Linked DNA regions of Homo sapiens: regions 1, 3 and 4 are each linked to region 2. The links come from fine-mapping of genetic effects on gene expression. A gene starts in region 2. Each other region holds a variant in brackets. All regions are shown on one strand. Distances are from middle to middle.

Region 1 (8,106 bases), 36 kb after region 2:
ACAGGAGACACACAGGCTGGGTGCAGACACAGGGTGGGCAGCGGCACAGGGGCCGGCCGTGGCTGGGGGCAAGGACACACTCGGGGCTTCGTGACCCACTTGGCAGGCAGAGCCGCCTGCGGTCACCACTTACCACTCACCCCAGGGCAGGCAGCTGACGGGAGAGAGAAAGCGCGTGTCGGCCCCAAACCTGGCTCTGCCCACAGAGCGAGTGGAGCTGGGGTGGGGGCTGCATCCTCGGGACAGTGGGGATGGCCACCCTGTCCTGAGCCAGGCAAGGCCGGGTGTAGGGGCACAGGAGGGAGGCATAGCAGGGAGCCACAGGCATCTCCCGTCCCAGCCACAGACAACTCATTCTGCTCGAGTTCTGCTTCGCCTGGACTGGGGTCACGATCAAGGGTCAAGGTTCAGGGGTAGAACAGCCATGGACACCTGGGGGGTCCTCATGGGACCCTTTGGGGGCTAGATGGGCTGAGGACGAGAGGCCAATGTGAAGGCACGGTGTGCAGCGTGGAGTCCCAGGCTCCAGCCCCTCCATGGGCCAGAACCCCGTTCCCCCCGGCCCTGCCCTGTCTCCACGGACCAGACCCCCGTTCCCCCCGGCCCTGCCCTGTCTCCATGTTCCAGATCCCCCTTTCCCCCAGCCCTGCCCTGTTGCCAGGTGCCCCCTCTTCTGGGCACTGTGGGTCTGAAGGGCAGCGTTCAAAGTTTGGGAGCTGCACTGACTGGCCTGGGGAGCTCCAGGCAGAGAGCAGAGGCCCTAAGGCCTCCCGGGCAGGGGGAGTGAGGCTGAGGCTGTACCGGGAGGGCCATGCCTGGGATCCTGACAGCTGGTCACAAACACGCTCTGGCCCTTGGCGAGGCAGCCGCAGCGGGGCCCGGCACATCCAGGAGCTGCGTCCTGTGGGCCTCCCTACTGGGTGGAGGCCTCAGGTGCAGCGTGGAAGCTGGGCCTGACCCCACGGTGCCCCACGGAGCTGGTATCACCTACTGGGCAGCCTCGGATGAGCGCTGACCCTCTGACCTCAGGCCCCTTGCTGTAAAACGGGCAACAGAGTCCTTCCTGCTGTTGTGAGGCACAAACAAGGTGGCACCTACAAGCCCCCAGTGAATTCAAGGAAGTGATGCCAGATGAAAACAGCGAGTCTGGCTGTGGGGCCTGTGCACCTGCAGACCCCGACCTCCCTCTGGCCACCCCCTGGGGTGTGTGAAGAGCCGGCTTGACCGCACACTCACCAGCAGGTCGGGGAGCACCAGGGCAGTGAGCAGCCGGCCCCGCACAGCCATGTCCTTCAGCAGCATGTACAGCCGCTCGGCCTCCGCAAAGCAGGCAACGTCCAACACTACCGCGCCTGCGGCAGGAGCCCAGGACTCAGGGGGAGCCTGTCCCATGGCCCCCACGGTGCCAGGGCAGGAACCAAACCAGGACGTTTCCCCAGCCCAGGGCTGCCCAAGGGAAAGGTCAGGTGCTACGTGAGGGCCAGGGCTGTCCCACTTCACCCCAGGAACACCCCTGGGCCTCATGTGACCACGTCCCTCAGGGCAGCTCACCTTGGGAGGAGTAGATGTGACTCACGGACACCACGGTGGCTGCAAAGGCAGGCTGTGGTCAGGGCGGTGGGAGGCGAAGGACACACAGCACTGGGGCCAGGGACAGCCCCTCCGCCTGTCCAGGGGTGACATCTCACCCCAAAGGCAGCCTCCCCAGGAAGTACCCCTGCCCCACTCCAGGAGCAGGACTCCCAGCTCCCTGGAGGTACAGGACCCCCCAGAGGGAGAGGGAGAGGCAGAGGCTGAGCACCGCAGGGAACGGCCACAGAGGGCGAGAGGCTCCAGAGCCTCTTGGAGGAAGAGACGTGGGCTGGACCCGGAGCTCAGGCCTTGGTGGCTCAAGGAGAGGCAGGAGCCGGCTCAGCACTGCAGCCCCACTGCCTGCCGCTCGACCCTGCCCCGTGCCAGCAGCCCACGGCCAGCCACAGTGGTCACACCTTTGGTAGCCCCGGCCTCATGCAGCAGGCTGCTGTACTCCTCGGGAGACAGGCCGGGAGGCAGGCCGCCAACAAACAGGGAGACGTGCGGGGCTACATCCCTGCTCTCTGCCACGTAGAACCGCGTCTGGCTCACCTGCCGCACAGACATCTGCAGGGAGAGGGGCGGGGATGCTGGGCCGGGGAGAACGGCACCACCGCACCAGGCCCTCTGTCTCCTCACCCGCAAAACAGCAAAACAGGGCATCAGGAACACTCCCAGGAATTAAGTCAACAGGAAAACGAGGAAAGGGGCCACAGAGGCTTCCTTGCTGTGGACAACCCCTGTCCGTTCCCCTCGAGGACCTCGGGGAGATCTGCAGCTCGAGGCCTCCCTGCAGGGACCAAGTAGCTCATGACGAGGGCGCTGCCCTGTCAGCCAGGACAGCCGCTGCCTAGCCAAGGAGAACTCGGCGTCTGGGGCACACCCACCCTGTGGGGCAGAGGCTGTGGCTGAGGGCTGCTGGTTCCCTGGGGGCCGGCGTCCACACCCACTCACCTGCCGGATGTCCTGTAGCCGGTCCAGCAGGGGCTGTTCGTCCATCAGCATCGTCCGCTGGACTGCAGAGGTGAGGGCACAGGCCGTCAGCACCCGGCTCCTCGCCCACCTTGGAAGCAGCTGCCCGGAGCCCCCAGGGCCCGTGGGGATGCAGGGTGGAGCTGGTCAGGAGGGCAGAGCCCGGCCTTGATGTCCGGCACCACCCTGCAGGAAAGCCTGGGCAGCAGGTCCAAACCCAAAAGGTGCAGGGACCGCCACGCCCAGCACGGGCTGTCTACTCACCGTGCCTGCAGCCCATCGCCACCTCCACCAGCTGGAAGCTCTCGGGACTCTCGGCCTGTTGGGGTAGAGCTTGGCATCGGGTCTGGGCAGGCCCCCACCACCTCAGGACACCCGCGGGGACAGCCACGCCTGGGCTGGGATGGTGGCCTGGCCTCCTGGGGACAGCGACCCCCCACCGAGTCTGGCCGGCATGGGGAGCAGGCACAGGGTACGCACCTGGCGGCCGAGCAGCGGCAGGACCTCCAGCACCACAGAGCGGGCCGTGCTCTTCGGGGTCACTCGCACGGACACGTAGGCCACGCCCACCCTGTGGGGACACAGTCTGAGCTGGAGCTCCCCCCACCCCGCCCAGCAGACCCTGAGCCTCGGGCCCAGTCTCACTTGAGCCAGCCAGGGTAGATCTTCAGGACCTCCTGGGCCCGCGGCAGAGCCCGGATGACCCAGGCCTCTGGCGTGGCCTCGCCGGACCCGGGGCTTCTGCCCTCCTCCGAGATCACAGCACTCCCAGCCTTGCCCCCAGCCCAGGCGTCACAGGCCTGAGAGGAAGGGGGCAGCCGGCACAGCTCCAGGTGGCCAGGGTCCTCGGGGATGTGGTGGGCCCGCAGTGCGGCCTCCTGCAGGGCACCAGGTTAGAGGGGCCAAGTTGTGGGGGGTCAGGCGGGGTTCAGTGGGGGGCAGGTCATGGAGGGGGAGGCCAGGTGGGTGAGGGGCGCCAGGTTGGGGGAGCCAGGTCAGGTGC[G/A]CCAGGTGCGGGGACATGCGGTCCTGGGAGGGGGCTCAGACCTCCCCCAGCCTCCCCCTTACCAGCACCTCCTCGGCACCGGCCAGGCGGGACACCGTGACGAGGCGGAACTGGCTTCTTCTCACCGCGTCGTCGCCATCAAAGATCTTCAGCGTTTGCTTCCCTGGGCCGGGTAAGCTCCGTGAGTCCCGGGCGCCCGGGGGACCTCAGTGGAGTTGGGGGGAATGAGGCGGGCACTTACCGGACTCCGGAGTTGCCTGTGTCTCTCTGCCTGGACCCACGGCAGCGCTCCCGTCGGCGCCGTCGCCCCCCTCGCCTGCGGGTCGGGCACACGGACCCCTCATTCAGTGCGCAGCCCCCAGCCCAGGGCGCCCCGGCCGGCCCGCACCTCACCCGGCTCCGCGGCCTCCACGATGCGGAAGCTCTGCGTCTTGCTGAAGCCGCCGGGCAGAAGGCGCACGCACGCGGGAGGCAGGACCAGGGAGCGCAGACGCCCGAAGCCACACTCGGGAGCCAGCGCCGCGGAGCAGAGGGAGTGCGCCTGGGGGGAGAAGGGCCTGAGCTGGGGGGTTGGAGCCAGGGTGCGGGGGCACCAGGTGCGCCAGGTCCAGGGAAAGACCCCACACGACGCAGACCCACCTGGACCCCGTGTCCTTCCTGCCGCCCGCCCCCGAGCACCCACCTGGAACCCGCGCCTCTCCTGCCCCGCCCCGCCAACTCCTCCACCTCCCAGCACCCACCCAACCCCGCACCTCTCCTGCCCCACCCCCACCCCCTCGACTTCCCAGCGCCCACCTGGACCCCGCACCACTCGCAGCGCACGCCGGCCAGCACGTCAGAGGAGCCGCACGTCTTCCTGCAGACCTCGCAGCGCGCTCCCGAGGGCAGGTTCCCCTCCCGCCAGTGGTGGTGATGGGTGTCCTGCAGAGCGGGGGCAGTCAGCAGCTGGGCCCGCCCCACCCCCCAGGGCTCCCTGGGGCCGGTACACTCACGTGATCCTGGTGCCCATCCTGGTGGCACTGGCGGCAGTCACTGCAGGCGAAGGGCACACAGTCTGGGTGGAGGTGCAGCTCACACACTGGGGGGCAGGCAGGGTTAGAGGTGTCTGCCGCCCCCGGAGGACCCCTGCCTCTGCCGGTGCTTGGGTCTGCCCCATCCCCACCACCTAGCACCCTGCATCCTTTAAGTGTCCTGTGGCCTGCCAGGCGGCCAGCCCTTGGCCTCCCCCATCACCCCTGACAAGCTGCACAGCAGGGGTGGGCTGGGCCACCCTGGGCAGCAGAGACCAGGACACTGGGTGGGGAGCCAGGCAGGCTCCAGGTACCTTCGCAGTGGAGCGCCGGTGCCTCCAGGACCTTGCGGCAGACAGCACAGAACTTGCGCTTGTGGAGCCCCCGGGGGCCGAAGCAGTGGGCTACAGGAACCTGGTGGGGCAGCCTCACCTCAGCACCCTTGGTAAGGGCAACAGGCTGCCCGCCACCCCTCCTCGCTCTTCACCTGCGCAACTCTGCAGCTCACGCTCCTGCTGAGAACTGCCCAGGCTGAGCCAGCTGTGCTAGCTGGAGGCCCCAGGAACAACCACACCCCCAGGTCCTGGGGACAGCCTGGCTGGTCAAAAGCAGGGAGGAGGCTGTGGCCTCCTCCAGCAGCCCTGCCTAGCGCAGGGGAGCGAGGCCCCAGGAACAACCACACCCCCGGGTCCTGGGGACAGCCTGGCTGGTCAAAAGCAGGGAGGAGGCTGTGGCCTCCCCCAGCAGCCCTGCCTAGCGCAGGGGAGCGAGGCCCGCCTGCCACCCCTTCCCTCCTTGGGGCAGGCGAGGCTCTGTCGACGGCCTGGCATCTGTCTCCTCCGAGCCAGGAAGATCCCAGCACACAGGGACTGCCCTCTGGGAGATAATCTGGCCATAACGAGTGTGGACCAATGTTTCTGTGTTGGAGAAAGCTGGGCTGTTGCTTTTCCACGAGAAGGGAAGGAGAAGGACCAAGTCTTCACTCCTGACTCTCGCCCTTGTCCCCAAACTTAAACCACACCCGATAAAAGCATACACAGAAAGACCGTGTTCCAGAATAGCAGCTGTGAGCATGCCAGGATGGCGGGTGACTTTTATTTTGTTAAATATATCTCCTTTTTTTTTTTTTTTGAGATGGAGTCTCGCTCTGTCGCCCAGGCTGGAGTGCAGTGGCGTGATCTCGGCTCACTGCAAGCTCCGCCTCCTGGGTTCACACCATTCTCCTGCCTCAGCCTCCCGAGTAGCTGGGACTACAGGCGCCCGCCACCACACCCGGCTAATTTTTATATTTTGTTTAGTAAAGAAGGGGTTTCACTGTGTTAGCCAGGATGGTCTCGATCTCCTGACCTCATGATCTACCTGCCTCGGCCTCCCAAAGTGCTGGGATTACGGGCGTGAGCCACAGCGCCCGGCCGTTAAATACATCTTCTAAATTTCCTATCATGCATACAGTTGAAATACATACTTATATTTTCCCAATTTAGCAAAGTATAGAAGACATTAAAATCAATTTTAAAAAGCGGCAGCCTCGGGCCGTCCACATGACGAGGGGCCGCCCAAGCCAGTGTGGAATCACCAGGGTGTCGGCCACCACCAGGACCACCGGCCTAAGGCCTCCTGCTCACACCCGGGGAACTGCATCATTAGGAACAGGGCGTCAGACATTAGAGGGGACGGCGCAGCCGGATGCCCGCCAGTGGCAGGTGTGCCTGCTGGCCTGGCTTCCCGTCCTGCTGCACACCCGGGCCTGCCTCGCGGCCTGCGCCCCACCTGCAGCCTGAACGCATCAGGGAATGCGGACTTGGGGGGCCTCAGTCTGAAGACGGCGACGCTGACAGCTGAGGGAGGAATAAGCCTGGCCCTTCCTACATGTCCCTGCTGTCACCACTGTCACCAGAGAAGGGAAGTCCCCTGTGCCCTGCAGTGACCTGGGCCAGTCACCTCCCTGCCCCACCCAGAGCCCTTAGAGGGAGGGTGGTGGCCAAGACACCCTCAGGCACCCAGGCTTCCTGCCTTTGCTTTTTATTCAAGCTTCCTTGAGATGCTTGTGGGTTCACACATAGCTGTGAGGAAACTGAACAGACCCCCTGAAGCCTTTGTCAGCTCCCCTAAGTGTGTGATCTTGCAAACTGAGGTCACGCCAGATGCCGAAATCTCCATCCCCCCCAGGAGCCCTCACGCTGCATGTCACAGCCACGCCCACTTCTCCGCCTGGAAACCTCTCTACATCTGTGCTCCCTTTAGTTTCGTCATTTTGAGCACATTCTATGGACAGGATCTTGCTATTTGCGACCTCGGGGACTGGCTTTTATCACCATCATTCCCTGCAGATCCATGCAGGGTGCTCAGCCTTTTAATCCCGAGCAGTATCTGCCCTTTGCCTTTCAACTGCAGGTATCACTAACGTCTGACATGAAGGTTTTCAGTGCCTCGACCCTACGAGAGCTGACACATCCCCCAGCCTCTTGCAGGTGCAACACCCAGCCCCACACTCACCCGGACCAGGCTGGGTGCCACACTCGTGCACGGGATCCTCACGTGCTTCAGGCACTTCTCATGAGACATGAAATTGCAGACTGTGGGAATGAGCACTGTGTGAGTTGGCCCCTGTCCTACCCAATGGCTGTCCTACCCAGGAAGTTAGAGGCCCCAGGGCAATGACTGCCATACCCACCATGCTGCACCAGGGGCCCTGTGGTCCTCGAGTTCCCCCACCACCCTGCCCACTCATTGGAGAGAGCCTGCAGCCCAGGAGCCCAGGAGCAAGAACCTGGGTGGTCCTGACCATCCTGGAGGACAATGAGTGTATCCTCTCATCCAGAGAGCAGTCCCTCCCCTTCGCACGTAGGCCCAGCACTCCTCCTGCCTCTGCAGTTGGGCCTCTCAAGGGGCAGCCCTGGGCTCACCAGGTTCGCCAGGTGGCAGGGGCTTCTCGGCCTTCGGCAGATTGGCTTTACCAAGGACATCTGTGTCTCACTCCCCCGAAACTACGCATACCCCTAATTGTCCCTGCTACGTGCTGTGCACCGTGCCTGAGACCGAGAGCCACCCAAGGCAGGTGAGGGCTCTGGGAGGCAGGAGCCGCTGGGGAGTGGACAGCCCCAAGCCTCCCAAGGAGCTCTGGCTGTGTGCATAGGACCCAGGGAGCACCTGAGCCGGCGGGGTGCTCAGGAGGGCATAAGAGGAGCAAGCGCCACACCCCAGCAGTAAAACAGACAGGAGGGTGGGGCCGGGGCAGAAGGGAGGGCAGGAACCCTGGGCTGGGGCAAAGGCTGCGGGGGCTGGGAGTGGGCAGGGCACCCAGTGACACAACTGCCAAGACAGCCCCGGGTGAAGGTTGTGCCACGGAGCCCCAGGCAGTCCAGCTGGGACAGGGAGCTCTTCCAGAAGGCCCCGCTGGTGCCGCCCTTCACCTGCTGCAGCCCTAGCCACCCCAGTCTCCAGATGGGACCGGGAGAAGCTTCTCCTGGCAGCTTAAGAGAAAAGCTCTGGAAGCAGGCCAGGGTCCACCGAGAGAAGGGGGGACAGGCAGCACCCAGGTCCCTCCTC
Region 2 (8,106 bases):
TTGTATTTTCAGTAGAGATGGGGTTTTGCCATGTTGGTCAGGCTGGTTTCGAACTCCTGACTTCGGGTGATCTGCCCACCTCGGCCTCCCAAAGTGCTGGGATTACAGGCGTGAGCCGTCGTGCCCGGCCCGGTCTACTTTTAAGATCAGTCTAAGGCTGGGCACATTATCTCATGCCTGTCGTCCCAGCACTCTGGGAGGCCTAGGCCAGGGGGATCACGTAGGCCCAGGAGTTCAAGGCTGCAGTGAGTCGTGATCGCTCCACTGCACTCAACATGGGCGACAGAGCCAGACTCTTTTCAATAAAAGAAAATGATCTCAAGTGTACCCTGCGGAGGACACATGGGGCCAGCATGCGGCCTCCCCTGCCACTGAGCCCACCTTGGAGACATGGGGCCTTCCTGCCACTGAGCCCACCTGGGAGGGTTTCTGAAACTTGCAACCAAGAGTCTTGCTTGTACCACATGATTCTGCAACTGTCAGTCAGTACCAAATATTCACAGTGCCCTCACCCAGTCCAGAACATTCTTTTTTCTTTTCTTTTTTTTTTGGTGAGACGGAGATTTACTCTTGTTGCCCAGGCTGGAGTGCAATGGCGTGATCTTGGCTCACCGCATCCTCCACCTCCCAGGTTCAAGCGATTCTCCTGCCTCAGCCTCCTGAGTAGCTGGGACTACAGGCATGTGTCACCACACCCGGCTAATTTTGTATTTTTAGTAGAGACGGGTTTCCCCGTGTTGCCCAGGCTGATCTCGAACTCCCGATCTCAGGTAATCCACCCGCCTCGGCCTCCCAAAGTGCTGGGATCACAGGCGTGAGCCACTGCGCCCGGCCCAGAACATTCTAAGTAAGTGAAGGGAGGAAGCCTCCAAAAGCCATGTCAAGGAGGAAGAAGGGTGGAGAGTCAGGACCACACACAAGTGGCCCTGGGGGTGGGAGTAGGCTGTGCCCTCCCCATTCCTTAGGCCAGAGCTTGACCCCCAAGGCTCCTGAGCGGGCCCAGCCACTCAGCTAACACTGCGCATGGCACACAAGGGCTGCGGGCTGGCTCAAATTACATACAACACCCAACCAAACGCACGAGGCGGGTTACGCTTAAACCATACGACGGCTGTGCGGCATCGTTTTCTTTTCTGCCTCAATTTATCTCACTAGCAGTAACCCCGAGTTCAAGTCAGCCACACAGGGAAGGTGGATTTCCCTGCAGTCAGGGCACCACAGGCTCCACTTCAGAAGCAACGGCACGCAGAACCCAAAACAAAGAACACACAGCATACACCTGCCCTGGGCATCTCTGACATGGTTGGTGCTCCTGATAATCTGCCTTTTAAAAAAGTGAAGACTAGCTAGGTGCAGCAGCACATGCCTGTAAGCCCAGCTACTCGGGAGGCCGAGGCAGGAAGATCCAGAGCCCAGTTCAAATCCATCCTGAGTAACAGCAAGACCTCGTCTCTTAAATTAAAAAAAAAAAAAGGAAGATGACAGAACAAATTTGAAGAAATTAGAAAGCTATCTGGTTCCACAGTTCTACCTAAAAACCCATTCACACCACAAGTCCAAATTCCTAAAAGCTATGAAAACCATTTTTTCCTAACTCACTTGACAGCAAATCCTGGTCTATCATAATAACCTCATTTGGGATAAAACCTGACATGAACTGATATGGGGTTAATTACAGACTTTAATTATCCCACAGTGAGAATATTTATTCATTTAATTACAGAAATATTAATGTATTCAATTACAGAATACTTTCCCAAGTCTTCTGGGAGTATCCCACGATATACAGGTTATATGCTGCAATGACCATTCTGAAACCTGAAAAATTCTGGAAGTGTAAACATCTGTACTCAAGGGTTCAGATTACCAGCCATCACCATGTTTACACAAGACAGCCTAAACTCCCATAGCCTATGTTCTAAGGTTGCTGTTCAGACAAAACTTAATTAAGTATGTTTATATAAAATACTTAATTCAGCTTTCACACTCTGTTTCAGTTCAAAGAGGCTTCAAAGTACTTAGGAGGCTGCAGGCCACCTATTAAGTTTACAAGGAGGAAATCTACAGCTCCTAATTGCATTGGTTATTTTTATCTCCTGACTTGCCTAGATAGCAAAGGGAAACAAGTTCTTTTGCACAACCTCAGCAGCTGCCCACATTTCCTTGTTCTTCTTCCTGGGTGCTAAGTGACCCACAAGCTTCTTTCTTTATACGAATCTTCCTCTCCGGGCCCCAGTGAGGGTGCATTCTCCATCCCTCCCACCAAGATCCGTGCCATCTTCTGCTTGGCCCCTTCCCAAAGCTCACACTGTCTGTACCACCCCTAAGGATCTGTCCCTGTGCTGCCTCTGTCTCTCCACCCCTTGAGCACAAGTCTGAAGTTCCAGAAAGCAAGTCCTGTCCACAATAAACTTCTTAAAGAATGAAGATAACCACCTAGTATTTTCAGAATAAATGATTTGATCTGAGAGAAATCTTCCAACTGATGTGAAAGAATATCACACTTCAGCCCCCACTTCTGAAAGAAGAGCTTAGACTTTCTGACCAAATCATACCCAAAATCTGTTTGGTTTTGACCACAATGGAGACAAAGTGTGTGATAATGCTACAGTCAAAATGTCTCCGCAGGCCTTTTGTGATAATCAGAATTCTGGGATAGTCTCCTGTCTGGTCACAGAGCAGGCACCTGGACAGGCTAACCCTCCAGCCCTGAGAGGTACCAGGGAGCTGGTGAGGGTGAGGGCTTTTGTGTCGCTTCACTCCCTCTCCCTGTGCCAATACAGCAGAATAGAGTTACGCTTCCGCACCCAAGTCAACTGTGTTTAGCCCATAAACTTCACAGCCAGTGAAATATGACACACCTCCAGGCACCACTGGACAAAAAATGTAAGGAAAATCCACAAGAGAGAATGGGACCCACTGGCACTGGTGATCGATTCCGTGTGAACGGAGAGGACATCCAGGGAGCTAGAAATAGCATGCAGAGACAAAACTGACTCAAGACTGACTCAAGAGGACTTAAGCCGAGTGACCTGTCCACTCTGCAAGTTCTATATAGGTCACAACCACTGGCTCTGCTTCCTGTACTACACACGGAATCACACGAGTAGATGTTCACCGGGAAGAGAAACACTGAGGTGTTGAAAGACGAAGGGGGATCACGAGACACAGCCCAGTCTACCCTCGGCCAACCCCCCCACCCCCCAGGCTACAACCGCAACTACCTGCAACACGTGTGCACCCACCAACTCTCAAGTTCCCTGGACTGTAGAAGAACCAGCCCTAACCTCCAAAGTCCAGTCCTGTCCCTGCCTGCTCAATAACCCCAGATGTCCGGCAAAAGGCCAAGGCTTAAACCCACCTCCTGCACCGCTCACCTCCTGACTCCAGCTGTCGGCCTTCTAGGCACCGTCCCTCAGTCTCCGCTGTGGGTCCCCACCCAAGCTCCCTGCCTGCCACCATCCCCCACCTCACCGTAACATCTTCCCCCACCCACCCTGAGGGGGTTCCCCAAGCCCCAGGCCTTGCTCCGACTTGACCCTACTCTTATGACAAGAAAGTACCCCGACCCGGTCCCAGCCTCGCCCTCCGCAATCACCGCCAGCAGGCACTCACCTACGCCCGCGCTATGACCTTCGCCTGGCCCTGACCCACGCCCTCGGCAGAGACCCTCCCCTGGCCGACCCTGACCCACGATCCCGCTGGGACCCTCCCCAGCCCTAACCCACGCCCTTCCACTCCGGGCTGACGCTGCCCCCAGCGTCCCGGAGACAACACTCCGCGGCCGCACCCGCGCTGCCGACCCGGGGCCTCACCTTCGGCCAGGACCCGCCGCACCCGCAGCCGCAGCTCGCCCAGTTCCACCGTCTGCCCCACGAAGTCACTCTGGTCGCGGCCGGAAGCACCGCCCAGGGAGCCTGGACCCGCCAAGAAGTCGAGCGCCGACTGCAGCAGCGACATGGCGGTGGCTGCGCCGCACCCCGCGGCAGCCGGAGTGGTCGGGCTCGGGCTCCCGCTCCCTCGCCGTCCGGGTCAGCTCAGCAACCGCCGGCCCGGAGGTGCACCATCTTCCGCCTCGACGCCGTGACGTAGGCGCCCGTGAGGACGCGTCGCGTCAGGCGGCGACCCGGCCTAGCCCCGTCCCCTCCGCCGCGGCCTCACTTCCTGGCTGCGCGCGCAGGCGCGGAGGTCTGACGGAGACAGCGCGTGCGCGGCGTCGCCGGGCTTGCGATGAACTTCCGGCTGTCAAGCTCCCGGCCGGGCTGACTCAAGCGGAGGCGCGCGGAACAGTCGCCGAGGCGATTCCCGCCCAGGTAGTTCAGCGCCCCAGTCCAGCTCCCGGTACCGTTCCCCACATGGTCTGTTTTGTGGGAGGCTCCTTCTCAGGTGTCTCCGGTTTAAGCGCTTCGCCATCCTCTGGGTGGAGTCAGCCTCCCGTTTGCTGTTAGCGCCGCGTTTGCGAATGGGTTCGCGAATTTTTCTCTCAGTTGGCTAAGGAGCAAGGAGTTAGCGTGCGTTAAGCTTTCAGTAAATACTTGGTTTTCGTCTCATGGAGGTCGGAGTTTCCTGTGACGCTTAGTGAGTAAGGTTGGCAGCCCCCTCCCAGCAGCCAGGCAGGCAGTTTGCAGGGGAAACGCTGCTGCATTGCTCTGTCTTCCGAGGAGAGGGCCAGGGTCTGGCCTGGGGCAGTGACCAGTAGTGGGAGCCGTGGGCTAGAAAAACCTTCGTCCTGGGCAACCACAACACTGCAGAGACTGCCCTGTGACCCTCAAGGTTCGTTCTCACCCTGACATTTTCCAAGGCAAAAGCAAATCCTCATGAACCACTTGGAAGGGTTCGTAATGCCCAACTATTTGGAGATGAAATGGTGACTTTCCTTATAGGATAATAAGGAAATGGCTCACAGACAATGCATTTTTAGTTTTTGGCCCACACAGTATTTGGGGGTTGGGAGTGGGTAGCAGGAGGTGAATTAGTTGCTATCATTTAAAGACTGATGCCAGGCGCGGTGGCTTACACCTGTAATCCCAGTGCTTTGGGAGGCCGAGGCAGGCGGATCACCTGAGGTCAGGAGTTCCAGACCAGCCTGGTCAACATGGTGAAACCCCGTCTCTACTAAAAATACAAAAATTAGCCGAGCGTGGTGGCGGGTGCCTGTAATCCCAGCTACTCGGGAGGCTGAGGCAGGAGAATCGCTTGAACCCGGGAGGCGGGCGCCACTGTACCCTAGCCTGAGACTCCGCCTCAAAAAATAAATAATAATAATAATAATAATTGAAAGGCCTAAATGTTAAAAACCTAGTTTTCCAGCTTCTGTGGAAAAATCAAACCTGTCAATATTGGACCCAAAATGATGTGTGTTACCAATTACCTAGAGTGGTCCCTTGAGGTAAGACACAGTCATTTGCCTGACCAGATGGGCTCATGTATGTTACCTGCCTGGTTCCTATAGTCATTTAAGGTTGCAACCCCTTCAACAGAGTTATTTGTTCTCCAACTCAAAAATGGATTCTAAAGCTCACATCAGCCTCTTAGCCGTCCCAGAAGCTAACATCTGTTATCTTTATCATTAAAAGATAATAGCCTCAGCTCGTTGGAACACTTATCTATGTTATGGAATGAAGTATTGCATGAAGCCAAATGACATCTTTAAAAATATATATAACAAAAATAACAGTAGCAATAGCTTAGTTTAGGCACTGATTTATTGCTTACAACACCCTTTTCTGTAATAGTTCATTGTAGTGAAAACATCTTTGTGAAGAAAGCACAGTATAATTAACCCCCTTTATTTTGGGATGAGAAAATATGCTCAACAATGCCATTATTCGGCCAGGGCCAACAAGTGATACAACTGCAATTCAACGCAAGTCATGGCTTTTCCAGCCAGTGCGTTTGTCTGGTCGACTGTGGAATAGAAGGATAGAGAGCTCAGGAAAGAATCCCTGCTAGAGACAGATATCTGGGCATCCTCAGCATAGAGGTGGCAGTTGGCTCTAGGAGCTGAAGAGAGGACCAACAGAGATGGTGTACTAGACATAAAGAGGTTAGAATCTTCAGAGAATAGACAGTTTGTGGAGAAAGAGCAGTCAGTGAAGGAGGAAGAAAACCAAGAGAGTGTCGTAACAGAGCCAAGGAACGAGGATGTTCGGGGCAGAGAGTGCAGCTAAGAGTGTCGAATGCCACTTAAAAGTCAAGTAGAAAAAGAAATGGAAGATATGTGTTGGATTTATTCACAAGGGATCATTGGTGACCTCACCAAGAATAGCTTCATTGGAGTAATGAGGTGGAAGCTACATATTACCGTAGAGGGATGAAGAGATGATGAGGTAGAGATGGCAAGTGGAGATAACTCAAAATGTTTGTCTGTGGAAGAGAATATGAACAACTTCAGGCCAACAAATTCGGCACCCTTAGCTCCAGGGAGCTACAAGGGTGATGTAGTATTGAGATGTTTTAAGATGAGAGATTCTTGAGCAGCCTAAAGCGGATGGAAGGGAGAGAAGGTTTGCTGGTACAGAAAAAAGAGGAATAATAAGATAATTCTATCTTAATGAGATATCTTCTATCTCTTAGAACATAGGAGGGGAATGACATCAAGAGCATAGGTAGAGATATTTGCTTTGGACATAGGAAAAACACTCAGGAAGAAAAATGGGCTGCAGTTGTAGGTGACCTTATGTATTTATTGGAATGAAGGTGAAGGAATTCTCTAATGACTTCTGTTTTCATTGTGAATGAGGAAAGAAAAACATCAACTGAAAGTGAGAGGGGAAGTAGGAAACCCAAGATTTAAGCAGTGTCAAAAAGATCTAAAATAGCTATTATGAGAAACCTAGCAAATAACTCACTGGAAAGCATGAGAGCGTTTAAGCACTCATCTGGAGGCCATGAACTTATACTGGCATGACCTGGGATCAGCTGGACATTTCTAAACCTTGTAATCACTTTGGAAACCAGAGTCAGACTACTTATCTTACGAATATTTCTGGAGCACCTTTATTTATTGGCATTGAAGTAGATGCTATAGTAACACCATCTTAACCCAAATATCTATCTCCATATCTCATCTGAACTCTCAGATGTTTGTTCTTAGATACTGCTACATGTATAAACATGTATATATCCAAAACTGAAGTTATAGTCTTAATCCCTATAACTGATTTCCTAAATTTCATAGCAAAGAGTATTGCAAGAGATTAAGAGGATCATTTTGTAATGAAGAAGGGGTGAATTCATCGAAAAGACTTGATAATCCTAAACATTTATGCACCTAATAACAAAGCTCTAAAATACACAAAGCATAAACTAATAGCTGCAAGGAGAGAGAAAAATCACAATTGTAGTTGGAGAATATTCTTTCTCAATAAACGATAGGATAGATACCCAGAAAATCACTGAGGATATAGGCGACTTGAACATGACTGTCAGCCAACTTGACCTAATGAATGTTTATGGAACACTCCCCACAATAACAGCAGAATACACAATTTTTCAAGTGCATTAAAACATTAAGCCTGATCATATTCTGTTCTATTAAACAAGTATGTTATCTGACCAGAATGATATTGAATATTAAAGTAGAAATCAGTAACAGATTGGAAAATCCTTTCAATATTTGGAAACTGAATAACTCACTTTTGTTTTTTGTATATTTTTTCAACTCACTTTTAAATAACTCATGGGTCAAAGAAGAAATCAAAAAGGAAATTAGAAAGTATTTTGAACAGAATGAAAATGAAAATGCAGCATTTAAAACTGGTGGGATGCAGCTAAAACAGTATTAAATGTTAAGTCTCAAATCAGTGACCTCAGCAATCACCTTATGAAACTAGAAAAGTTGGCTGGGCACGGTAGCTCACTTTGGCAGGCTGAGGTGGGCAGATCACTTGAGGTCGGAAGTTTAAGACCACCCTGGCCAACATGGTGAAACCCCATCTCTACTAAAAATACAAAAATTAGCTGGGTGTAGCAGTGCATGCCTGTGCACGCCTGTAGTTCCGGCTACTTGGGAGCCTGAGGCAAGAGAATTGCTTGAACCCGGGAGGTGGAGATTGCAGTGAGCTGAGACTCTGTCACAAAAAAAAAAAAAAGGAAACTAGAAAA
Region 3 (8,106 bases), 160 kb before region 2:
CTCGGCCTCCCAAAGTGCTGGGATTACAGGCGTGAGCCAGCGCGTCCAGCCGAAGGTTGCTTTTTTAAAGCATTTTTAGTCAAAGTCTTTTGAAAGATGAAAGGTCTGGCCTTGGTCACAGTAGTCCTGCTGTGAAGACGCATGAAGGTGCCCTGGGTCAGGGGAGCAGCCAATTTCACTGACACCCTGGGACGCACAACCAGGACCTGACCTCTTGCTGGGAGATTACCCCGAGACTTCAGTCATCACCATGCACACTGCCTTGTAGGAAGGCTGGGAACCCTCAGGTGGCGACAGCCCCCAGTCTGCCAGGGCCCCTCAGAGGTTGAGGGGGCAGGGTCCCTCCTCACATTTCTCACCTGCAGCTGGTGCCACAACTGTGAATGTTGGAGTTGTCCAGTCCCACAGCTTCCTCTGCCCCACAGCACAGGGCAGATTGGCCTGCAGGGCCTCATCACCCCCATTCTCTGAGAGGAGATGTGGCTATCTCTGGCAGGCCTCGCTCTGGCTGGTAGCTTTCTCCTGGGCTGCCATCTTCTAGTGCCAGTGAGGACTCTGGTCATCTCACCTGCTTAATTCCCATACTGTGTTGTCCACAGCTCTGCTCGGGTCTGGTAGTGAGAGGTGACAGTGTGCTGGCAGCCCTCTCAGCCCTCGCTTGCTCTCGGCACCTCCTTGGCCTTGGCACCCACTCTGGCTGCCCTTGAGGAGCCCTTCAGCCCGCCGCTGCACTGTGGGAGCCCCTTTCTGGGCTGGCCAAGGCCAGAGCCGGCTCCCTCAGCTTGCAGGGAGGTGTGGATGGAGAGACAGACGCGGGTGGGAACCAGGGATGTGGGCAGGCTTGCAGGCCAGCAAGAGTTCCGGGTGGGCGTGGGCTCGGCAGGCCCTGCACTCAGAGCGGCCAGCCGACCGGCTCTGCTGGCCCCGGGCAGTGAGGGGCTTAGCACCTGGGCCAGCAGCTGCTGTGCTCAATTTCTCGCTGGGCCTTAGCTGCCTCCCTGCAGGGCAGGGCAGGGCTCGGGACCTGCAGCCCACCACGCCTGAGCCTCCCACCCCTTCCATGGGCTCCTATGTGGCCCCAGCCTCCCCGACGAGCACTGCCCCGTGCTCCACGGCACCCAGTCCCATCGACCACCCAAGGGCTGAGGAGTGCAGGCGCACAGCACAAGACTGGCAGGCAGCTCCACCTGCAGCCCCAGCGCAGGATCCACTGGGTGAAGCCAGCTGGGCTCCTGAGTCTGGTGGGGACTTGGGAGAAGCTTTATGTCTAGCTAAGGGATTGTAAATACACCAATCGGCACTCTGTATCTAGCTCAAGGTTTGTAAACACACCAATCAGCACGCTGTGTCTAGCTCAGGGTTTGTGAATGCACCAATCGACACTCTGTATCTAGCTACCCTGGTGGGGACGTAGAGATCTTTTGTGTCTAGCTCAGGAATTGTAAAAGCACCAATCAGCACCCTGTCAAAAACGGACCAATCAGCTCTCTGTAAAATGGACCAATCAGCTCTCTGTAAAATGGACCAATCAGCAGGATGTGGGTGGGGCCAGATAAGAGAATAAAAGCAGGCTGCCCGAGCCAGCAGTGGCAACCTGGTCCTGTCCCCTTCCACACTGTGGAAGCTTTGTTCTTTTGCTCTTTGCAATAAATCTTGCTGCTGCTCACTCTTTGGGTCCACACTGCCTTTATGAGCTGTAACACCGCAAAGGTCTGCAGCTTCACTCCTGAAGCCATCGAGACCACGAACCCAGTGGGAAGAATGAACAACTCCAGACGCGCCGCCTTAAAAGCTGTAACACTCATCGTGAAGGTCTGCAGCTTCACTCCTGAGCCATCGAGACCACAGACGCAGTGGGAAGAATGAATAACTCCAGACGCGAAACCTTAAGAGCTGTTAAGACTCACCACGAAGGTCTGCAGCTTCACTCCTGAGCCATCGAGACCACGGACCCAGTGGGAAGAATGAACAACTCCAGACGCGCCACCTTAAGAGCCGTAACACTCACCACGAAGGTCTGCAGCTTCACTCCTGAGCCATCGAGACCATGAACCCAGTGGGAAGAATGAACAACTCCAGACACAGCACCTTAAGAGCCGTAACACTCACCGCGAAAGTCCACAGCTTCACTCCTGAGCCATCGAGACCACGAACCCAGTGGGAAGAATGAACAACTCCAGACGCACCACCTTAAGAGCCGTAACACTCACCACGAAGGTCTGCAGCTTCACTCCTGAGCCAGCGAGACCACAGACCCACCAGAAGGAAGAAACTCCAAACACATCCGAACATCAGAAGGAACAAACTCCAGACACGCCACCTTTAAGAGCTGTAACACTCACTACGAGGGCCCTCGGCTTCATTCTTGAAGTCAGTGAGACCAAGAACCCACCAATTCCGGACACAGTAGGACCCCCTTTATGGTGTGGGGTTTTTTTTCTTTTTTTGGAGACAGGGCCTCACTCTGTCACCCAGGCCAGAGTGCAGTGGTGCAATCATGGCTCACTGTAACCTCGGGCTCCTGGCCTCAAGCCATACTCCCACCTCACCCTCCAGAGTAGCTGGGACTACAGGCACCACCACACCCAGCTAATTTTTTATTTTTGTAGAGATGGGGTTTTGCCATGTTGCCCAGGCTCGTCTCGAACTGAACTCAAGCAATCTGCCCACCTCGGTTTCCCAAAGTGCTGGGATTATGGCAGGAGCCTCCACGCCAGCCCTTTTTCTTTATTTTGTGTGTGTCTGTGTGTGTGTGAAAGAGAGAGTACCATTCTGTCACCCAGGCTGGAATGCAGTGGAGCAATCTCAGCTCACCACCAACCTCCACCTCCCAGGCCTAAGCAATTCTCCTGTCTCAGCTTCCCAAGTAGCTGGGATTACAGGCACCCACCACCACACCCACCTAATTTTTGTATTTTTAGTAGAGATGGGTTTCACCATGCTGGCCAGGCTGACCACAAATGACATTCCTCAACACAAATGATCCGCCTGCTTCAGCCTCCCAAAGTGTTGGGATTACAGGCGTGAGCCACCTCACCCAGCCTTTTTTTTAATGTTGGCTTTTCTTCTGTTAGATCAGCTCCAGAAGCAGCTTATCCTGTGTCATTTAATCTCATCAGAATTTAACTAGGATTGCAATGAATGTACAGTTTACTTTGTGGGGCAGCTGACATCCTTCACCCACGATGTGGCATGTCTGCCAACTCACCCTCTTTTAGCATCTTCCTCAGGCGGTCCTTACACACTTCTCTTCCAGCTTTTGTGATTCTTTCATATGGAGGTGGAGGGTTGTGGCTCATGCTCCGATGGGTTATTGTGGAGTAGAGAAACCCACTGGATCTGGCACGGACTGAACTCCTCGGCTGGTCCTCAGGGTTCCTCAGGGGATTTTCTTGGATTTACATGCAGATGATTGTATCATCAACAAACTACTAAACCCTGTCTCCAATATTCATCTCCTTCCCTCTTTTTCAGTTCTCTCACCCTGCTGGGATGTCTGGAAAACACTCACAGTGATAGCAAGGAGAACTGTGCTTGTCTGACTTTAATGGGAATACTTTAAATATCTTGACTTAAGCATGATTGCTGCAGGGTTTTGACAAATACCATTTACCAAATAGAGAAATTATCTTCTGTTACAGCTTATTAAAAATCAGGAATGCCGGGGGCAGTGGCTCACACCTGTAATCCCAACACTTTGGGAGGCTGAGGCAGGTGGATTACCTGAGGTCAGGAGTTCGAGACCAGCTTGACCAACATGGAGAAACCCCGTCTCTATTAAAAAAAATAGAAAATTAGCCAGGCATGGT[G/A]GCACATGCCTGTAATCCCAGCTACTCAGGAGGCAGGAGAATTGCTTGAACCCGGGAGGCAGAGGTTGTGGTGAGCCGAGATGGCGCCACTGCACTCTAGCCTGGACAAGAAGAGCAAAACTCCATCTCAAAAAAAAAAAAATTCAGGAATACGTGTCCATTTTTAAAAATGTTTTAATATTTTAAACTAAAATTTTTAACTTTTTTGTTTGAAGCTTTAACACATGTACAGTCACGCGACCACCACCACAGTCCACACACAGAATGGCTCCACCCCCAAATCTCCTTAGTGCCACACCTGACCACGGCGCCTTCCCCCAACCTTCCTTCACCTCTTCCCACCCCCATGGTGCCCAATGTGTCAGTCTCTCCCCATTGTCACTGCAGAGGAGTATTTCACTGCATAGATATACCACAGTTTACCAGTTCACCCAATGAAAGGCATTTGAATTTCAGCTTTTGATGATTATGAATAAGGCATCAGTAAACATTTACGTACAGTTTTTATGTGGACTTAAGTTTTTCATTCTCTAAATACCCAACAGTGGGATTGCTGGGTCATGTGGCTGTGTACATTGAACTTTATAGGAAACCACCATGCCGTCTTCCATTTCCAGCAGGTCCACACCCTGGCAGCTTGGGGCACCACCAGCATTCTCTTGCACTGCGGCTGTGGTGCAGGTGCCTCGTGTCCTGCGTGGTGGCTGAATCTGCATTTCCTGGTGGCTGGTGGTGTCAAGCCTCTTCTCCTGTGCCCAACAGTCAATGCTGTGTCATTGCTGGTGCATGTCTGATCAGGTCTTTTCCACTTTTTAGTTGGACTGTTTTCTTACTGTTGAGTTTTAAGAGTTCTCTGTGTATTCCAAATACAGGTCCTTAGTTGACAGGTGATTTGTGAATATTTTCTCCTCATCTTTTCATTCTTTTCACACTGTCTTTGGTAGTTCAAACGTTTTTAGGTCAGGCACGGTGGCTCATGCCTGTAATCTCAACTACTTTGGGGCCGAAGGTGGAAGGATCACTTAAGGCTAGGAATTTGAGACCAGCCTGGGCAATACAGCAAGACTCAGACTCTGGAAAAAATTTTTAAAACCAGGAATAGTGGCTTGCACCTCTAGTCCCAGCTACTCAGGAGGCTGAGGAAGGAAGATGGCTTGAGCCCGGGAGGTCGAGGCTGCAGTGAACTATGACTTACCACCACACTCCAGCCTGGACAACACAGCATGACCCTATCTCAAAAAAGTAAGTTTTTAATTTTGATAAAGTCCAATTTACAAATTTTTCTTTTATGGATTCTTCTGTGGATTATGCCTTTGGGATCATGTCTAAGAACTCTACCAAATGTCATCAGGTACAAAGGTATTTTTCTGTTTTCTTCCAAACATTTTATAGTTTTGTTTTACGTTTACATATGATTGGAGTTAATTGTGTACAATGTGAGGTTTAGGCCAAGGTTCCATTTCTACCATATGGATGACCAACTGCCCCACTGCTCTGTTGAATGGACAATCCTTTCTCCACAGGGTTGCTTTTGTTTGCACTGCTGTCAAAGATCAAATGGCCCTATTTATGTGGGTCTGTTTCTAGACTCTCTGATCACTGACCCATCTGTCTGTTCTTTGCCAATACGACAGTCTTGATTTTTGTGGCTTTAAAGTCTGTTAAAACTGTGTAATGTGATTCATCTAACTTTTTTGTTCTTTTTAAAACATTGTTTTATCTATCCTTTTTACTGTTTTAGCTAGCTCCTTCACCATTCTGTATACATTTTAAAATCATCTTTTCTAAATCTAAAAAGAGTCCTACTGCAATGTTTTGGAATTTTGTTAATTTCACAGATCCTTCTGAGACTGGCATCTTATGTTCAGTCTTCCAGTCTATGAGCGTGCTGTGTGCCGTCTCTCCACATACATAGTCTTTTTAGCATACAGATCCTGTTTTGTCTTGTTAGATTTATACCTCTCTCTCTCTCTCAGGAGCTACTGTGTTTTTAACTTCAGTTTCCAATGTTTTATTGTCTATAGAAGTAAGATTTTTTTTTTTTTTTTGAGACAGTCTGGCTCTGTTGCCCAGGCTGGAGTGCAGTGACATGATCTCGGCTCACTGCAACGTCTGCCTCACGGGTTCAAATGTGGCATGATCTCAGCTCACTGCAACCTCTGCCTCCCAGGTTCAAGCAATTCTCCTGTCTCAGCCTCCTGAGTAGCTGCGATTACAGGTGTGTGCCACCACACCCGGCTAATTTTTGTATTTTTAGTAGAGACAGGGTTTCACCATGTTGGTCAGGCTGATCTCCAACTCCTGACCTGGTGATACGCCTGCCTCAGCCTCCCAAAGAGCGTTGGGATTACAGGCATGAGCCACCACACCGGGTCTTTTATTTTTTTTGAGACAGAGTTCCACTCTTGTTGCTCAGGCTGGAGTGCAATGGTGCGATCTCGGCTCACTGCAGCCTCTGCTTCCCGGATTCAAGCGATTCTCCTGCCTCAGCCTCCTGAGTAGCTGGGATTACAGTGCCCGCCACCATGCCTGGATAGTTTTCCTATTTTTAGTAGACACAGGGTTTCACCATGTTGGTCAGCTGGTCTCAAACTCCTGACCTTAGGCCATCCACCAGCCTCGGCCTCAGCCTCCCAAAGTGCTGGGATTACAGGCATGAGCCACTGCACGCAGCCCTAAGATTAATTTGTATGTGTTACTGGTGAACATTCCAAACTCACTTACTGGCTCTACGAGGGTCTTTGTGGCAATCATTGCTGTTGCTTTAGATGAGTGTTCTCTATATAGACAATCATGTAGTCTGTGAATAAGGAAGTTTTATCTCACCTGTAATCCCAGCACTTTGGGAGGCTGAAGTGGGAAGATCACCTGAACCCAGGAGTTCAAGACCAGCCTGGGCAACATAGTGAGACCCCCCCGTATCGACTAAAAATACAAAAATTAGTCGGGCTGGTGGCACATGTCTGCAATCCCAGCTACTCTGGAGGCTGAGGCACATGCTCTCTGGAAGGAGGTGCCTGGGTGTGGCTCACCCTCCTCTTTTTCCCTGCTACCTAAAAGGAGGTCCCCAGGTGAAGCTCACTCACAACTCAGAAAGTTCAGGTCACCTCTGTGAGGGCATATCTGCATACACTATTTGGACTCGGCTGGATGTGCATGCCTCTGGTCCCAGCTACTTGGGAGGCTGAGGTGGGACAACTGCCTGAGCCCAGGAGGTCCAGGCTGCAGCAAGGCAACAGCGCACCATTGCACTCCAGCCTTCTGAATGACAGAGGAAGATCCTGCCTCAAAGAACAAATATTTGGACTCCTCCTGCATGGTCAATTGTCTCCTCTCTCCCATCTATTTATTAATTCAGTCTTTTATTTTGGAAATGGGATATTACTAGGCCTTGACTCCTGGGCTCAACTGATGCTCCCACCTCAGCCTCTGAGTAGCTGAACTACAGGTCCCACTCTGCCCAGCTCATTCAGTCACTTATTACATCAGCAAAGACTCATCGATATTTCTTCAGCCCTGTGCATTATAATCCAATGCTACTTTATTCTGCTATTCAAGTTATTCCAGCCTCGCCCATTGGGACCCCTTGTCGCTGTGTCCCTTTGGCCCACAGTTGTGGGTTGTTTTTTTTGTTTTTTTGAGATGGAGTTTCACTCTTGCTGCCCAGGCTGGACTGCAATTGTGTGATCTCAGCTCACATCAACCTCCATCTCTCAGGTTCAAGGGATTCTCCTGCCTCAGCTTCCCCAGTAGCTGGGATTACAGACATGCGCCACCACACCTGGCTAATTTTGTATTTTTAGTAAAGACGGGGTTTCTCCACGTTGGTCAGACTGGTTTCCAACTCGCAAACCTCAAGTGATCCGCCCGCCTCTGCCTCCCAAAGTGCTGGGATTATAGGTGTGAGCCACCGCGCCCAGCCTGTGTTGTTTTTTAAATCATTTCCAGGCTCATGGTGTATACCTTCTGCGCCAGTCCTAGGTGAATTTCTCCTGGTTGGTGAGTTTTCATTGTTTACCTCTGCTCACACAGGGACTCGAGGAGGGAGACTAGGACTCAGAGTCCTCCTTCATCTTGTCACTTCTCTAAACAATTACTTTTTGTTGAAGACGCCATGTAAGCTGGAATTCAAAGCCATCTCTTTGAACAACTGTGTGAAATAATCGTGCTAAACTGTTATTCTCCTTTAATCGTTCCAACCAAGCACCCACGGGGGCCATTATTCCTCTCCTACAACTGCAAGGCAGTGCCTCACCAACTAGCTTTGTTCCTGAGGCAAGCGGCAGGAACCCCTCTG
Region 4 (8,077 bases), 200 kb before region 2:
GCTGCCTCCGCCCCTGCCCCGTGCTGCCTCCGCCCCTGCCCCGTGCTGCCTCAGGCTCTGGGAGACACAGCCTCAGGAGACACCGTGGAAGCCGCGCCGGCCCCACAAGTGAATGGGGAGGAAGGGGTGTGAGCATACAGCCCAGACTCTAAACTGGGCCCAAGGGTCGCGCTGTGAGCCGCAGAGGGTCCAGGTGCCCAGAGCCTGCCCATCCTCATCCCACCCGGCAGCTCTGCCTTCGCGGGCTCCTCCTGCTCCTTCCGCTTTCACAGAAGACAGACAGCTCGGGGATCCTGCCTCTCTGCAGCTTTATGGACCCTCCTCAGTCCTCACTGCAGGAGGAGAGGAGGGGGTGTTGGGCACAGAGAGAAGCCAGTGCGGGGGAGCCGGGGGCTTTTGAAAAGGTGGGCTTGTCCCAGTGCACGCAGACACTGGATTGCTGACCGTGCCCTGCACATGGGAGCCTGGGACCCCGTGAGCCCAAGAGGCTCCTGCCACCCAGGCCTCAGGGCCTGCACTGTCCTCCCTGGGGGCGGCTGTCAGAGCTCAGCCAAGGATGAAAGGCATGGAAGAGTTTCAGGTGTTAATTAATCGCGTTTTCTCTTGTAGAAGCCAAAGATGTTGACCAGGAAGATCAAGCTGTGGGACATCAACGCCCACATCACCTGCCGCCTGTGCAGCGGGTACCTCATCGACGCCACCACGGTGACCGAGTGTCTGCACACCTGTACGTGCCCTGCCCGCGCCACCCAGGGAGGGCGCGCCCTTCCCAGCTCTGTGCTCTTCAGAACCTTGGCTTTTGTGTTACCACACGCTTTTAGCTCAAGCCCGACAAAAGCAGGAACCAGGACCAGGGGCAGAGACGATCTTGAAGATAAGTCAGAAAAGTCATTTCACGCTAAAGGTCCTGTGGGTGGTGTCAGAGCAGATGAGGCCTCGCTTAGGAGAGCGAAACACAGGAGAGACCCCACATTCCTCCCACGGAGCAGCAAGGCCAGTAGCCGCTGTGACAGTGCTCACTGCTGGCAGTTTCCAAATCTCCAGAGGAGTTCCTTAGATCCTTCAAAGGGGAACCTTCCAGTGTGTTCTTCACACCTGATGTGCGTCCTCACACCTGATGAGTCTGTGCTTTGGTGTTAGAGGACTCACACCTGGGGCTGGACCTGAGTGTTTTTCTAAGTGTGGCTACCGCTGACGGGCAGGTGCCATCCATCAGGCTGAGGCTCGGCTCTTATGCTAACCTGAGGCCCCATGGCTGGCGGCCCTGCTGGTGTGGACGACCGCTGTGTGCGTCTCTTGATGGCTGGGGAGCATTTTGTTTAAACAGGATCTTTAAAATGAAGTGTACGCTTATAATACAAGTGATGCTTGTGTATTTCTCACTTTAGGAAATAAAATATTTGCCAATTTGATAGAATTTTGACTTTAACGTTAATCGTATTTTTAGATATTGGTTAGCATATTTTATGTTAGGTTATTTTCATTTGATTTTATCTAGTTGTACGTAGAAGATACTGTCATCTTTTAGGACAAAGTATTGTAAAATTATCTGTTTTAGCCCATGTTCTGATGACCCACAGCTCTGTCACCTTTGAGCATCATCTCCCCATTCTAAGTTTTTTTCCCACTTAATTCCTAACCCTGCCTCTTTGAGGAAGCCCATTGACGGGGCAATTAAAACCTTCTCATTGCTCCTGAGACCAGAACGGCAAGATGTTTCCTTTCAGAAGCTGAGAGCCACAAGGAGGACAGCAGTGAGCATCTGCACAGAAACGAGCTCAGAGACGCCCGTGTTCAGTGGAGCACGCCGATGGGGTGGGCGCCCTGGCTCTAGACGCTCTCCTAACACACCTGTGCTTTGATGACAGTCTGCAGGAGCTGCCTGGTGAAGTACCTGGAGGAGAACAACACCTGCCCCACCTGCAGGATTGTGATCCACCAGAGCCACCCCCTGCAGTACATCGGGTGAGTGTGGGCCTTCCCAGGCCACAGTACGTGGGGTGAGTGCCCCTGGGCGTCTCTGTGTGTGGGCCTTCCCAGGCCATTAGCGCTGTACTCCCATCCTGCCTTGGCAGCAGCCTCTCCTGACCAAGGGCACCCCAGGAGCTGCACACGAAGAACCTGGGTCCAGCGCTCACCAGGCCATCCTGCCAGGCCTGCCCAGGCTGTGCCTGCACATACATTTCCATCAATACTTAGGTAGGCCGGGCGCAGGGGCTCATGCCTATAATCCCAGCACTTTGGGAGGCCGACACAGGCAGATCACCTGAGGTCAGGAGTTTGAGACCAGCCTGACCAACGTGGAGAAACCCCATCTCTACTAAAAGTACAAAATTAGCTGGGTATGGTGGTGCATGCCTATAATCCCATCTACTCAGGAGGCTGAGGCAGGAGAATCACTTGAACCCAGGAGGCCGAGGTTGCAGTAAGCGGAGATTGCGCCGTTGCACTCCAGCCTGGCGACAGAGCGAGACTCTGTCTCAAAGAGAAAGAAAAAATACTTAGTCAAGTTAAATTGTTGGAGAGCCCTCAAGACCAAGTTGAATCTCATGAGTTTTACGCAGAATTTGCTGAAGTTAAATTTGATGTGAGCCGGCCCTTGGATACCCCTTTCACCTTTCTGCCATGGAGCAGATGGTCCTGGGGCCCTGGCCCTGCTGCCCCTGACACATGGCCAAGGTCTTTCTCCCTGCGCTGTGCTCTTCTGCCCAGGGTCACAGCGAGCCTGGACTCACCCCTGGGCCAGCCACCATTTCTGGAGAAGGCAACTCTTGCCTGGACGTCAGCAGGAGGCCAAGGGGCCAGCCAGGTGGAGCGTGTGGTTCTCACACAGATTTGGGAGGTCGTTCAGATTTGGGGGGTTGCTCCAAAGGAAGGGAAATGCTCCCCGTACCATGAGGGTAGTAGAGATAATTCTGAAGACACATTTTGAAGGAGGAAAGGCAGATGTGTTTGTTTTTCCCTTTTATTATTATTATTTTTCTTAATTTTATTTATTTTTCTTGAGATGGAGTCTTGCTCTGTCGCCAGGCTGGAGTGCAATGGCGCCATCTCAGCTCACCGCAACCTCCACCTCCCGGGTTCAAGTGATTCTCCTGCCTCAGCCTCCCGAGTAGCTGGAATTACAGGCGCATGTCACCACGCCCAGCTAATTTTTGTATTTTTAGTAGAGATAGGGTTTCACCATGTTGGCCAGGCTGGTTTCAAACTCCTGATCTCAGGTCATCTGCCCGCCTCAGTCTCCCCAAATGCTAGGATTACAGGTGTGAGCCACCACACCCGGCCCTCACAGACTTTTCTTTACATTATTTGGAAACATTCTAGAAAAGCCTCTGTTCATTGGAAATCCCACAAAGACCAGGAGACCCCAGGAAGCACTTGGTGGGAGGGGCAGGGACAGTGTCCCCTGAGCGCATAGGATGCAGGGAACCCGGGGTGTCCGCAGGGACGGTGTCCCCTGAGCGCATAGGATGCAGGGAACCTGGGGTGTCCGCAGGGACGGTGTCCCCTGAGCGCACAGGATGCAGGGAACCTGGGGTGTCCGCAGGGACGGTGTCCCCTGAGCACACAGGATGCAGGGAACCCGTGGTGTCCACAGGGACGGTGTCTCCTGAGCGCACAGGATGCAGGGAACCCGGGGTGTCCGCAGGGACGGTGTCCCCTGAGCGCACGGGACGCGGGGAACCCGGGGTGTCCGCAGGGACGGTGTCCCCTGAGCGCACGGGACGCGGGAAACCTGGGGTGTCTGCAGGGACAGTGTCGCGGGGAACCTGGGGTGTCTGCAGGGGCGGTGTCCCCTGAGCGCACGGGACGCGGGGAACCTGGGGTGTCTGCAGGGACGGTGTCCCCTGAGCGCACGGGACGCGGGGAACCTGGGGTGTCTGCAGGGACGGTGTCCCCTGAGCGCACGGGACGCGGGGAACCTGGGGTGTCTGCAGGGACGGTGTCCCCTGAGCGCACGGGACGCGGGGAACCTGGGGTGTCTGCAGGGACGGTGTCCCCTGAGCGCACGGGACGCGGGGAACCTGGGGTGTCTGCAGGGACGGTGTCCCCTGAGCGCACGGGACGCGGGGAACCTGGGGTGTCTGCAGGGACGGTGTCCCCTGAGCGCACGGGACGTGGGGAATCTGGGGTGTCCGGCAGACAGAAGCACGGGTTCCCAGAAGAGCCTTCTCTGTCATTATTTGAAATGTTTGAAGCAGCCAGAGCCCAAGTTAAATGACGCGTTAATTCAGCTCATACATGGCTTTTGGTGACACATTTTTTCATGTGT[A/T]AACTAGAAGTAAAATTCCAACAAAGCTCCAGACTGGTGATTCTGAACTTTGATATTGTTAAATGGAAAGTGTACAAGAATTATAGAATTAACATTTCCAGCTAACTCCACCTTTCTGTTCTTTTGCCAGTCATGACAGAACCATGCAAGATATTGTTTACAAATTGGTACCAGGCCTCCAAGAAGGTGAGTGTCTGACTGTCTTGCTGATCCCTGAGGTCCCAGCCTGGCCTCTGCAGCCCCTGCTCTCCTGGAAGTTTGGTTCTCGGATGGGAGGCCCCTTTCCTTTTGGCCGAATCACCGTCTTCTCATCCCTGCTCTCAGCCCAACTTCATCTCCTTGGCTGGTCTCTTCTTTCGTCTAAGATGCGTAGACATCTTTTTACCCCTTATGTGTATTCATTCAGCAAGTATGGATCGCATGTTTAGCACATGGGACCCCCAGGGCTCAACGCAGCTCCTGCCCCTCCCAGGACCCTGCCTTCTTCCTGGGCCCCACCTCCTGTCCCAGGCCTGCCTCCCCTCATCCCACAGCGCCAGCTTCCCCACAACAGAGGAGCAGCACGTTGGCATAGCGGGTAGCTGGTGTTTCTAGAAAAACTTCACCATAAAGTCAAATTTCATTTAGAATTAAAAGAAATACCAAGTAGTACAAATACCCTGAAAGTGGAAATCGGTTGCTTGGGGATCGCTCAGCTGAAAGCTCCCCAGCTCCCGACACTCTCACGGTGGTGGCCCTCCGCTGGCGACCGGCAAGGAGGCCAAGGAGGGGCCAGGTCAGCGCCAGGTGGGCTGTCCTGGTATTCTGCTCATCAGACCTTTCAAAGGCAGATAGAGAAGCTGAGAATTCACTTGGGCTGGTTCTCACTGTATCTCAGAAGAGGGTTGGAATTCAAAACACAGCTGAATATGCCAGATCCGTAGAAACCGTATCTCGCCTTTAATGCGTGACCCAGAGAATCATACTGTTAGAGGCTTCTTCCCTACTCACAGAGTTCATTCATGCAGGAAGAATTTAGATTTCCTGAGTAAACGTAGATAGAAACAATTAGTCTTTTAATATCTGAAAGTTTTTTAGTCCTGAGAAAAGGCAAAGGATACATTCGAGTTAAATGCTGACACCTTAAGAAACGTTTGCACCGAGTGTTTCAGACGCGTAGCAGTGGGCGGGATCGGGGCGGGACCCCAAGTTTTGTGACCCCCGCCAGTGCTGACACTTTAAGAAACGTTTGTGGCCGGGTGCAGTGGCTCACGCCTGTAATCCCAGCACTTTGGGAGGCCGAGGCGGGTGGATCATCAGGTCAAGAGTTTGAGACCAGCCAGACCAACATAGTGAAACCCTGTCTCTACCAAAAATACAAAAAAAAAAAAAAAATTAGTCGGGCGTGGTGTCAGGTGCCTGTAATCCCAGCTACTCAGCAGGCTGAGGCAGGAGAATCGCTTGAACCCGGGAGGCAGAGGTTGCAGTGAGCTGAGATCGCGCCACTGCACTCCAGGCTGGGCGACAGAGCAAGACTCCGTCTCAAAAAAATAAATAAATAAATAAAGTGTGCACTGGAGCGTTTCAAACGCTTAGCAGTGGGCGGGATCGGGGCAGGAACCTCGAGTTTTGTGACCACCACCCCCCGCCAGCAGTTTCTAGGCGTGGCCGTCCTTGCTGCACCTGCTGCTCCCTCAGCCTCACCCCGTGGCCTTTGATCTGTAAAGGCTGCAGTACGTATCCCCAAAAGATAAGGGTTCTTCTTAAAGCTCATAACCACAATACCTTGATAATGTTTAGGAAAATAGTAGAGATTCCTTAATACCAAATAGCCACTCAGTGCTGACATTTCTAGTTGTCTCATAAATGCGGTGCTTTTTGGTTGTTGTTTATTTCTTTATTTATTTTGAGACCTGGTCTCTGCTGCCCAGGCTGGAGTTCAGTGGTGCTATCACAGCTCACTGTAGCCTCAACCTCCCGGGCTCCAGTGATTCTCCCACCTCAGCCTGCCAGGTAGCTGGAACTACAGGCAAGCACCTCCATCCTGGCTAATTTTTTGTAGGGATAGGGTTTTGCTGTGTTGCCCAGGCTGGTCTTGAACTCCTGGGCTCAAGCAGTCCTCCTGCCTTGGCCTCCCAAAGTGCTGGGATTACAGGTGTGAGCCCCCACACCCAGCCTGTTTTTGTTTATTCCAATCAGGATCCAGAGAATACCACTGACTCACGGGCCTCCTTCTGGTTCCTGCCTCTGCCTTCCCATTGTCCTGGGTTGTCCTGCGGCAGTGGACCTGGGTGCGTTCCACCCGTGTTTTTGGGAAGCCCGCTTCTGGGCATCCATCAGGGCAGGTGTCGTCCATGTGCTGAGCCGGGTGGCACTGAGATCTGCATGCCACCTCCGTTCCATCGCTCGTCTCCACGTGTTAGTTGGAGTGTGCGTCCAGCCTGGAGCAGGTTGTATGTTCTCGTCCACCTCAGCACGCTCTTGTCCGGTGTGGACGCTGCCAACTCCACTCTACGTTGAAGAAGTCGAGAGGCAAGAGGTTCCGGAGTGCTCCAGATTGACACCCCCAGGGCACGGTGGCCCCGAGCCGCCTCCCTGACCAGCTCCTGTCTCTGGCCACCATATTTTCCGTTGAGTCAATATTCTTTTTCTTGTTGTTTCTCAAGCTTTCAGTCATTTGTGGCTCTTTAGCAGGAGGATTCTAACTTTAAAACTATTAGCAGTGCACCTATTTTCTTGATGGAGGCTACTTGCAATTTGTTTAGTTTTATCTGTGGTGCAGACAATTGCAAACCTCATTTCTCCGACCAGAGGCCTCTTCCTGAAACGCGCGTTAGCTGCGAGGATGCAGTGGTGAGGCGAGGTGTCAGCCCTTGAGGGTCCAGGTGTCTGTTTTGGAGGAGACGCCAACACGGTCCTGCCCCTCCCACCTGGACTCCGGGCAGGCCCTCAACGCTGTCCCCGCACCCCCACATGGTGGGGGCTTGCTGGAAGAGAGTTCCCTGCTAGATCAGAGGTGGGGTTAGGTTTTTAGTGGTTTGTTGTTTCTTTTTGTTTTTATAAATTATTTTAGAAACCTGTCTTCGTAGAGGCAACATGTTTAAAACATTTATCAAAGTGTCCATTCTCAGTCTCAGCCCACTCTGGGCTCTTTCACTCGGTGGGCGTGTCATGGTCTTTGGTGTGCCAGGCTCCTGTCCGTTCCTGGTGAGGGCTGTGGGGCTCACGCACTCACCAGTCCTCTTTCCATGGATCCTGAACATGCCTGTCACCTCTTGCTTTAGAAACGTGGGGGCCGGACACAGTGTCTCATGCCTGTAACCCTAGCACTGTGGGAGGCCGAGGCAGGAGGATCCCATGAGCTAAGAATGTTTCTTTACATTTTTAAATAGTTGGAAAAAATCAAAAGCAGCGTATTTTATGATGTGATAATTTAAGAATTGAAATTTCATGGTGCGTAGCCTGGTTGGAACCAGCCCCACTGGCTCAGCTGTGGTCGCCTTCACCCGTAAGCCCGTCCGTGGTGCAGCTGAGTGTGTGCCAGGAGTGTGCTGCCTGCCTGCCGGTGGCTTTGGGCAGCCCTCTGCACCGTGGCTGGAACTCATCGTCACTGCATTGGGACGTTTTCATGACGACGTCAGAACGAGGAAAGGAGAAAAGGGGACTTTCAGGGCTGCACTTCGAAGCCGCAGTGAACTCTGGATTATTTTGTTGTTGAACTGTCATTGTTGATGGCAAAGCACCGACTTTCTCATCCGTCATACTGTAGCTATGCTGAGAGCAAACAGCCGACGATGGAGTCACTGACTCAACACCAGCAATATC

The links.
Region 1: its variant is fine-mapped to the expression of TMEM175 in whole blood (TOPMed, PIP above 0.99).
Region 3: its variant is fine-mapped to the expression of TMEM175 in whole blood (TOPMed, PIP above 0.99).
Region 4: its variant is fine-mapped to the expression of TMEM175 in whole blood (INTERVAL, PIP 0.96).

The regions. Positions count from the first base shown.
Region 1 is chr4:963,940-972,045 of GRCh38, forward strand. DGKQ (diacylglycerol kinase theta) reads right to left here. Exons shown (of 23, transcript NM_001347.4): 2 at 7,054-7,133; 3 at 4,872-4,971; 4 at 4,540-4,625; 5 at 4,343-4,468; 6 at 3,941-4,088; 7 at 3,789-3,863; 8 at 3,610-3,710; 9 at 3,190-3,422; 10 at 3,025-3,115; 11 at 2,809-2,863; 12 at 2,527-2,588; 13 at 1,989-2,139; 14 at 1,552-1,590; 15 at 1,237-1,352. It overlaps LOC124900645 (a long non-coding RNA gene), which reads left to right and starts at 4,944. Exons shown (of 2, transcript XR_007057989.1): 1 at 4,944-5,002; 2 at 5,406-6,002. RefSeq lists enhancers at 4,004-4,717, 4,718-5,431, 5,779-6,297. The variant G/A (reference allele first, on the strand shown) is at 3,548.
Region 2 is chr4:928,228-936,333 of GRCh38, forward strand. TMEM175 (transmembrane protein 175) reads left to right here and starts at 4,233. Exons shown (of 11, transcript NM_032326.4): 1 at 4,233-4,313. It overlaps GAK (cyclin G associated kinase), which reads right to left and starts at 4,089. Exons shown (of 28, transcript NM_005255.4): 1 at 3,816-4,089. The coding sequence starts at 3,960. RefSeq lists a silencer at 3,875-4,194 and an enhancer at 4,355-4,674.
Region 3 is chr4:772,759-780,864 of GRCh38, forward strand. The region is part of intron 1 of LOC124900163 (chloride intracellular channel protein 6-like); the gene reads right to left. All of the region lies in intron 1 of PCGF3-AS1 (PCGF3 antisense RNA 1), which reads right to left. Among named protein-coding and RNA genes, the nearest start is that of PCGF3-AS1, 5.0 kb to the right of the region's middle. The variant G/A (reference allele first, on the strand shown) is at 3,810.
Region 4 is chr4:733,063-741,139 of GRCh38, forward strand. It overlaps PCGF3 (polycomb group ring finger 3), which reads left to right. Exons shown (of 11, transcript NM_006315.7): 4 at 610-727; 5 at 1,869-1,965; 6 at 4,404-4,459. The coding sequence starts at 619. LOC107986246 (a long non-coding RNA gene) reads left to right here and starts at 6,365. Exons shown (of 2, transcript XR_001741543.2): 1 at 6,365-6,882; 2 at 7,645-8,077. The variant A/T (reference allele first, on the strand shown) is at 4,274.